Linked DNA regions of Homo sapiens: region 1 is linked to region 2. The links come from fine-mapping of genetic effects on gene expression. A gene starts in region 2. The other region holds a variant in brackets. All regions are shown on one strand. Distances are between the middles of the regions.

Region 1 (4,388 bases), 1.0 Mb after region 2:
CTTCTAGACATCCTTACCTGGATACTTCAGCAGCATCTCAAACACAACTAGTCCACCATTAAAATTATTGTCTTTCTCCAAAAATCTATTCCTCAGTGGACTTTTACAACTGCATTCATTCATTTATTTATTGACTCTTTCATTAATGTATTTATTCACAAACTAATATGTTTATGAGTGCCTACATGCTGATACCACTGAGACTCTTAGAATGCAAGTGTGAACAAAATATAAAGTTTCAGCCCCAGTGGGGATGATATTCTAGGGAAGAGATAGACAAAACCAGGAAAAAAGCAAACAAACAAATAAAATAGTTCCTGCTAGTGAAAGTTTTATGAATACTGTCAAGCAAGGTAATGGAATAGAAAGTAACGTGATGTAGGACAGGTGGGTGGTGGCTCTTTTAAATAGGATGTTCAGAGAATGTCTGTCTGAGAAGGTGATATTTGAACAGAGATCTAATTGAAGAGAAGAAGTAAGAATGAGAGTATATAGAGGACTAGCATTCCAGAAAGAAAGTACAACAAATAGAAAGGCCCTGAGACAAGAATGAATTTGAATTGTTCATGTTCAACTGATTGCAAGAAGATGGGAGTAGACTGGGCAAAGTGGGGAGGGGTAAAAAATGGGGTCAGAAAGATAGGCAGACTTTTTTGGGTCACGGTCATAATTTCGATTGTTATCTAAATGTGATAGGAAACCACTAGACAATTTTGAACAGGGGAGTGAAGTAAACTGATTTATAGTTTTTTTAAAAAAAATCACCGCAGCTTCTTTATAAAGAACAAAATGAAGACAGAAAGAAAAAGCTGTGATAATGGGGGTGATCTTCTAAAGAGGGGATAATTTCCAGAGCAAAAATATCAGGTGGTACAGAGGAGGAGGTTTACAGTGTAAGTTTAGTCATTATTATTATTCCTTACTTTTTACAGGTGGCATAGAGAGAATATCAGTTCTGGTAGAAGAGGTTGTAGATTTGATGACAGTAAAATAGAGTATGAATATGATGAAGGATTGGAAAAGAGAAAAGAAGACAGGAAATAGACTTTTCAACAAGTAGCACAGCAACTTTACCAGCGAGAGAAGTCACATTTGCTAGGCAACAGTGATGAAGGCCCACTTAGACAGTGGTTAGGAATTCTGATAGGATTTAAGAATAGTTGAAATGAGGGTAATAGAATTATGAGCTAGAAACATAGATGACTGTGGTCATGATGTTTGAGTTCAGATTAAGGATATTTTCCAATATGAATGAGGCTGAGTAACTAGGAGTGTAGTATACAATGACTGCTAAAATAATAAACTAGGAATTGTGATGTCTGGAGCAATGCAATTCAAAGACCTGTGGCTTTTGGTGGAGAATGAAGGTAAAATGATCTGGAAGTTGCAAGGACACCTACCTTACCTTGAGGTCCTATAAGTAGCATATAAGAGGGATGCAGAAAAAAACCATTATTGTCCTTAGGAAACAGCCAGATTATAATTAAAACAAGAAGGTGAAGGGAACATTAAGAGATAAAGTAAAGGAAACAGGGGATTGTGCTGATGGCAGGCCTTTGAATTTCAGAGGATGTGGAACTGAGGATCAGGGAAATGTGAGAGATGATATCAGACTTGCACCTGCATGGAGGTGGATGGAGAGAAAGTCTAGATGATGATGGATGACCTGGGAGATTTGGACTTCTGGTAGTAACTGATGAAAACACACATGGGAGGGAGGTTGATGGAATAGGGAGGAAAAAGAATTAGTCTTAATATGGTCTCTTAGAAGAAGATGAGGCATCAGTTCTATTGAGAGTGACAGTTGATATCAATGGCCTTCACAATGTTGAGTTGTGTTGTAAATATTGTCTTTCCTGGAGCACTCTGAGCCCCGTGGGCCTATTTTATAGTGGAGGAGGAGTCCACTAGAAACAGGTGCTTGTTAAGCTTGTTAACCTGTCTTGAATCTGGTTGAGAGTGATAGTGTTCTGGCCAAGGGATAAAGCTGATCTTACTAGGGCTTCTTGCCCGGATTTGCTTTTTGAGTCCTAGGCCTCCATATCCAACTCTCTGCTCAACTTCTTCATTTCAATGGCTCAAAGGTATCTCAAATTCAACAAGTTCAACACAGCACTGATAATCTCCAAACTCTATACCCCAAATTTAATCCTCTTTCATTTGTCTCCTCATGTATGGGACTATACAAATCAAAATTGAAGAGTCATCCTTGACACTCCTTTCTCCTTAACCACCGTGTCATATCTACTCTGGAGGAAAGTGGAGCAAGATGGCTGAAGAGAAACCCTACTGATCATCCTCCCCACAGGAACACCAACTTGAACAACTATGCACACAAAAAAGCACCTTCATAAGAACCAAAAATCAGGTGAGTGATCACAGTACCTGGTTTTAACTTCCTATCACTGAAAGTCACTGAAGAGGGTAAGAAAGGCAGTCTTGAATTGCCAACGCCAACCCTCCCCCATACCCTGGCAGTAGCTGTGTGGCATGAAGAGAAAATCTG[T/G]GTACTGGGGGGAGGGAGAGCACAGTGATCGTGGGACTTTTCATTGGAACTCAGTGCTGCCCTGTCACAGTGGAAAGCAATCTGGGAAAAACTCATCCAGTGCTCATAGAGGGCATGTTTAGACAAGCCCTAGCCAGAGAGGAATTGCCCATCCCAGCAGTTGGAACCTGAGTTCTGGCAAGCCTTGCTGCTCCAGGTTAAAGTGCTCTGAGGTTCTAAATAAACTTGAAATGCAGTCTAAACCACAAGAGTTGCAATTTCTATACAAATGCTGGTGTTATGCTGGGCTCAGAGCCAGTGGACTTGTGGGGCACACCACCCAGTGAGACACCAACCGGGGTGGCCAGGGGAGTGCTTGAGCTACCCCTCCCCCAACCCCAGGCAGTGCGGCTCACAGCTCTGGGAGAGACTCCTTCCCTCCATTTGAAGAGAGGAGAGGAAAGAGTAGAGGGGACTTATTCTTGCAACTTGGATACCAGATCAGCCACAGTAGGATAGGGCACCAGGCAGAGTCCCAAGACCCCCATTTCAGGCCCTGGCACCCTGAAGACATTTCTAGATGCACTGTGGGCCAGAAGGGAACCTGCTGCCTTGAAGGGAAGGGCTCAGTCCTGAAAGAATTAATTGTTTGCTGACTGAAGAGCCCTTGGGCCCTGAATAATCAGCAGCAGTGGCACCCAGGGAATACTCGCTGTGGACCTTGGGTGAGACTCAGAGATGTGTTGGCTTTAAGTGTGACCCAGCACATTTCTAGTTGTGGTGGCAATGGAGAGGGACTCCTTCTGCTTGAGAAAAGGAGATAGAAGAGTAAGGGGATTTTGTCTTGTAGCTTAGGTACCAGCTCAGCCACAGTGGGGTAGAGCAACAAGCAGCCTCCTGGGGCCCCTGATTCCAGGCCTTGGCTCTTGTATAGCATCTGAACCTGCCCTTGGCCAGAGGGGAGCCCACTGCTCTGAAAGTAGAGTCCCAGACCAGGCAGCAGTCAGCACAAGCTGACTGAAGAGCCCTTGTGCCTTGAATGAACATCAGCAGTAGCAGACAGTGTACAATCTGGGCCTGAGGTAACCGTGGCCATAGGGAGAAATTCCTCTATTTGTGGAAGGGAAGGGAAGAGTGGGAAGGATTTTGTCTTGTGGCTTGGGTGCCAGCTCAGATACAGTAGAACAGAGCACCAGGTAGATTCCTAACGTTTCCAACCCCAGGCCCTGGCTCCTTGGTGGCATCTCTGGATCCAACTGAGACTGTGAGGAACTCACCACCCTGAAGAGAAGGACACAAGCTTGGACAGCTTTTCCACCTGTTGATTATAGGGCCCTAGGGCCTTCAGTGAACATTGGCAATAGCCAGGCAGTGGTTACCATGGGCCTTGGGTGAGACCCAGTGCTGTGCTGGCTTCAGGACTCACCCAGCACAGTCCCACTGGTGGTGGCCACAGGGGTCCTTGTGTCACCCCTCCCCCAGCTCCAGGCAACTCATCATGGAGAGAGAGAGATTTGGGAGAAAGTAAGGGAAGAGAAAAAGTAAGGGAAGACAACGAGAATCTCTCCATGGTGAAACAGAGAATCCTTCCAGATCTTATTCAAGACCACCAAGGCAGTATCTCTACCAGTCTGCAAGAGCCACAGCGTTACTGGACTTGGGATGCCCCCTAATGCAGATATGGCTACAGCAACCAGTAAGTTAGATCACAACACCTAAGTCCCTTCGAATACCTGGAAAACCTTCCCAAGAAGGATGGGTAAAAGCAAGTCCCGACTGCAAAGACTAAAATAAATATCTCACTCTTCAATGCTGAGACACCAATGAACATACACAAGCATCAAGACCATCCGGGAAACATGACCGAAAAAATAAACTATATAAGGGACCAGGGATCAATCAT
Region 2 (4,388 bases):
AGCTCTAGCGATCCTTATTAAGCAAAAATTTGCTCTTAAATCTTATCTCCTCAACTTCTAAAGCCGCAGAATACACGCTGTGTTAGGAAATCAACTTCAGATTGCCAGCATTTCCTTCACAAGCAAATTAGCAGGATTGTGCACTTGGAGTACTGTTTGACAAGAATGAAAAGGAAACTATTCAAAATAGATTTAAGGAATGGACAATTAGATGAGGAACTGCAGATTTAATTCTCAATCAGCACTGTGATTAATCTGATTCCCTGCTTTTCCCCAGCGTAATTATACAACACAGATGAAAGGATGAGCATTTGGACTGTCAGTTCTATATTCTAGACCAGCCCGGTGACTCAAAGCAGACGGCTCTACCACGCTAACCACCATCCCAACAACAGTCGAGGGGAGTCTCGAGCACTGATTGAACAGTCATTGCATAACAAGGCATTAAAAATTCGAATGCCCCCAACTCTTTCCACGTTCGTGTACACCAGGAGGGAATTTGCTGAAACTGAAAGCACCCCGTCTTAAATGACCCCCTCCAATCCGAGCATGGGGTGTACACAAAGGCATCTGTCTAATATCCCGCACAATAGACACACACCCCACAATTAAAACCCTGGACTCTCTCACCACACAAGCAAAGGAAATGCAAGCTGCTCTGTTTCAAAAATGGTCTATGGTACATGCAAGGTAACAATAACCCCAACTGAAGCAACTATAAAATCGGCTGTGCCACGTCCCTGTGCAACCGTCAGATAAAATGCAGGCAGCCGGCCCCACGCCTTACGGGGTGGCCAACCTCGGCTCGGTGGCCTCAATGGACCGCTGAGAACCCCCAGGCCCCCGCCTGGCAGGAGCTCCAGGTACACGTCTATAAATACTCCAGGATGAGAAGGACGAGAGGGGAAGAGGGGAAGGAGGGAGGGCAGGGGGCAGGCCCCGAGCGGGTGCGGGAAGACCGGGGCATCACTGAAATGCATTTTTCCACACTCCCGCTCCCTCGCGTGGAGACTCACTTTCCGATCACCTCGCACAGCTCGTACACATCCTCGAACAGCACGTCGTCGTCGGCCATGGTCCGGAGGGGATAGCGGCCGCAGCGTGGAGGGCTTCGAAAACGGGGGTGGGGGCGCCCAAGAGCTCAGTGCCCAGCCCCGGGATCGCCTCCTCCCCTCAGGACCCGCGAGCCCTCGGTGCCGAGGACGCTCGAGTGGGGCCGCGAGGCCCAGAGACTGCGGCGCCTTCCTCTGCAGGCGACCGCCCCGGCGCGGGCGGCGGGGCCGGGGCGCGGGAGCGAGGGCGGCCCGGGCCCGGCGCCGCCCGCCCGCCCGCTGCTTCTCGCGCTGCTCGGGCCGCGCTGCCCGGCGTGCGGATCCTCGGGGACCGCGCGGCGTCGCGCTCTCCGCTCGTCAGCCCGCGCGGGCCGCGAGGCCGCGACCGCTCCCTCTGTCCGAGGCCGGCTCCGTCGCGTCGCGGAGCAGCTCGGGCTACAGAGGGGGCCGCGGCAGGACCATGGAGCGAGGATCGCCGCGGAGGGAGGTGGCGGCGGCGGCGGATCGGCGCTGGGGACCAGGAGGCGGCGGCAGAGACGCTCCCTCCTCTTTCTCCTCCTCCCGCAGCCGCCACCGCCCGCCCGGGAGTGGGAGGGGGCTTCGCGGGACCGGCGCTCTGTGCGGGCGGGAGCCGCGGCCGCCGCCTTCTGCTCCGCCCCTACGCCTCAGCAGCCGACCGGCTCGCCAGCCCCGCTCACCCGCCTCGCGCAGACACGCCCTCCTCCCCCGTCGGCGGCGCGGCTTCCAGAACCACAGGCTCCGCCCACTCCAACCGGTCGGGAGGCGGTGGCCCAGGGAAAGGGGAGCGGGCCGAGCGGCGCATGCGCGGGGCGCCGGCCGCGTCACGGCGAACGGGCGGGCACCGGGATTCTAGAGGGCGCGGGGGGTTGAGTGGGGCGCGCCGGCTGCAGCTGCCGAGGCGGGGCTGGTTGGGGTCGTCGCCTCCGCGCCTAGCCGCGACCAAGCCGCGAAAGGGGCTGGAGACAAAAGGTCCACGGCTGCACGCTCGTTGTCCGGCAAGAGGCACGAAACTCTGGCCGCTCCCCTTTCCTTCTTTTGTAATCGCAGGGAGCCTTTCCCAGTTTTTTGCTGGGAAAAGAGGCAGGGAAAGGGTGCTAATGAATGAGAAAGCTAAAAGAGAGGTGGAGAGAGGTTGTCACTGAATCCGTGCTTGGCAGCGGATGCTTTTAGTGCTACCCTGTCATTCCTTAATGAAGATGAGGGCTGGGGGTAAGGGGAGGTCGTCCAAGAAAAGGACTAAACAAAAACTGCCTAGGAAGGTGTGCGACAGCAAACGGTCATCTATAGAGACAGCTTCTCCCACGTTCTGCCCCAAACTCAACAAATATCTATCCAGCGCCTACCCTCACTAGAGACCAACCTAGAGAGAAGCTAGGAAGGCAGGGACAAACCGTGACTTTAAGCTCATTTGTATATTGTCCTCAAACTCCCAGGACCTACTCTGCTCTCTATACTCCCTATAAATGTTAGACTTGTCAGGAACAGAATGCAACTAGAGGGAGTGCAGGCACAGGAGCAGCCAGGGAGTGAGGTTCTGGGTGTTGCCGCTGTGCTAGGTTGCATTCAATATGAAGATTTCTGTTCAACTGAGCATGTGCGGAATGAGCCAGCGCCATCAGACAGGTATATGCCTCAGTTGAAGACCAATAGTGTCTTTGTTCCTCCGCACAGCAAAAGTGCCCAATTAGTTCATAAGTCAGTTTCCAGAAATCGTCTGGTAAATTTCTCAGTGCAGTATTTTTTTTAAAAAAAGTATTTATTAATACCAAAGTGGAGGGGGTGATGTGGAGACTCACAGCCTATTTTCTCTTCAGAAACGTTTCGTGCAAACCCTTGACCACTCCCTCAAAAGGCTGAGAGATTTGCCTGCTAAGGATTTGGGTACTAAACCTTTTTTTTTTTTTTAAATGCAGATCAGAGGACAAGTGTAATTGCACACGGTTTTCCTCCTTTCTCAAAGAGCTTGTGCATTCTCTAGAGACGGGGGCTTCAGAACTTGAGAAACATTGCCTCCTTTAAGGGTCCAAGAGTTACTCACCACAAGTTGGCATGTCCAGCTCATGTCTAATGAATAAGGCGTCACTCCATTCTGCCCTGAAGTGCACAGGGACCCTCTCAAGTCACCTTGTCAGCTTCACTTCTTTTCCCCAGCCCAAGACTGAGCTATACCAAGCCTTGTCGACTTCATTTTGGGGTTTGTTGTCTTCTACAGGGACCTATGCTCAGAGGTAGAAAAGGACAATCATAAAGTAAAACAGAAAAGAAAGTGCAGGTGAAAAAAAGAGAGACAGACGATTGCAAAAATAAGTAAGTGCTCTGCTCATAGGATCACAGTTGGTTTGGATCTGGAAAGAGACTCCCTCACTTACAGATGGAAGAATGTGGTGGTTGCTCTCCCAAAAGCCATCCCACCCCTCTCCCCCACCATGGGGTAGCAGCTCTGGACTTGAGGTGAGATTGTAACCATCTTTACTGGAGAGGTGGGCTCTGATTAATTAAACTAACACATGCAGCCCCCTTGCCACAGCGATAAGCCTAATTTAATCAGCTCTTGGCACTCCCTGGTCACAAGCTTTGAGTGGTTTGAGGTCTGCCAATCAGCACAAAGCTGAGGACTTTTTCTCCTGATCTGTACTTAGATCTCCCAGTTCCCAGTGTAATATTTAGTCATATAGAAATTCTCTGCAATACACATCCCTCAGAAGTTGTACCATGTATGATGGTTAGAAGTAGATCCTCTCTGCTTCGGGGACTAAAATAAGCAAACCTTTTAAATTAATTTTTCTCTGGGTGTCTTCCAAAAATCCAATACTGTTCCAACAAATAAGCCCATGTATTAGTGAGTCAGGTGTCAATAATTTGGTTCTGTTTTCGTTTCCACAAAGAAAATGTTAAAGTAAGTGCATCTATTAGATTGTGTTCAGATGTTAGCAACTGAATATTCAACTAACAGTGGTTTAAACAAATGCAAGGGGGCGGGGTGCTCTTTTCCATGTAGCAAGGAGATGTGTGGTTATTAACATTGATCAGCTATTCAAGTGCGTCATCAGTGACCTAGGTTTATTCGTTCCACTCTGCCATTCTTGTAATGTTAGCATCTCATCCTCAGGCTTGTTGCCTCATCATTATGAGATGGCTGCTGCAATTTCAGACATTAAAGGGAGGAAGCAGGAGGGCAGTAAGGACAGGAGAGGCCTTTCTGCTCCGTCTCTCATCTATTAGGGAAAGAAAATATCTTTTTCTCATCTCACGGGCCAGGACAGAGTCACAGGCAGCAACACTTACCTGCAAGGGAAGCTGGGGACACGGATATTT

What was found. PIP is the estimated chance that this variant, and not a neighbour inherited with it, causes the effect. A credible set is the group of variants that fine-mapping cannot tell apart.
Region 1: its variant is the best candidate, but not a certain one, in a credible set for the expression of CASK in whole blood (TOPMed, PIP 0.63).

Annotation. Positions count from the first base shown.
Region 1 is chrX:42,918,219-42,922,606 of GRCh38, forward strand. LOC105373188 (a long non-coding RNA gene) reads left to right here and starts at 2,161. Exons shown (of 5, transcript XR_949037.3): 1 at 2,161-2,368. RefSeq lists an enhancer at 3,270-4,208. The variant T/G (reference allele first, on the strand shown) is at 2,507.
Region 2 is chrX:41,921,914-41,926,301 of GRCh38, forward strand. CASK (calcium/calmodulin dependent serine protein kinase) reads right to left here and starts at 1,641. Exons shown (of 27, transcript NM_001367721.1): 1 at 1,017-1,641. The coding sequence starts at 1,075. RefSeq lists silencers at 1,096-1,145, 1,416-1,995.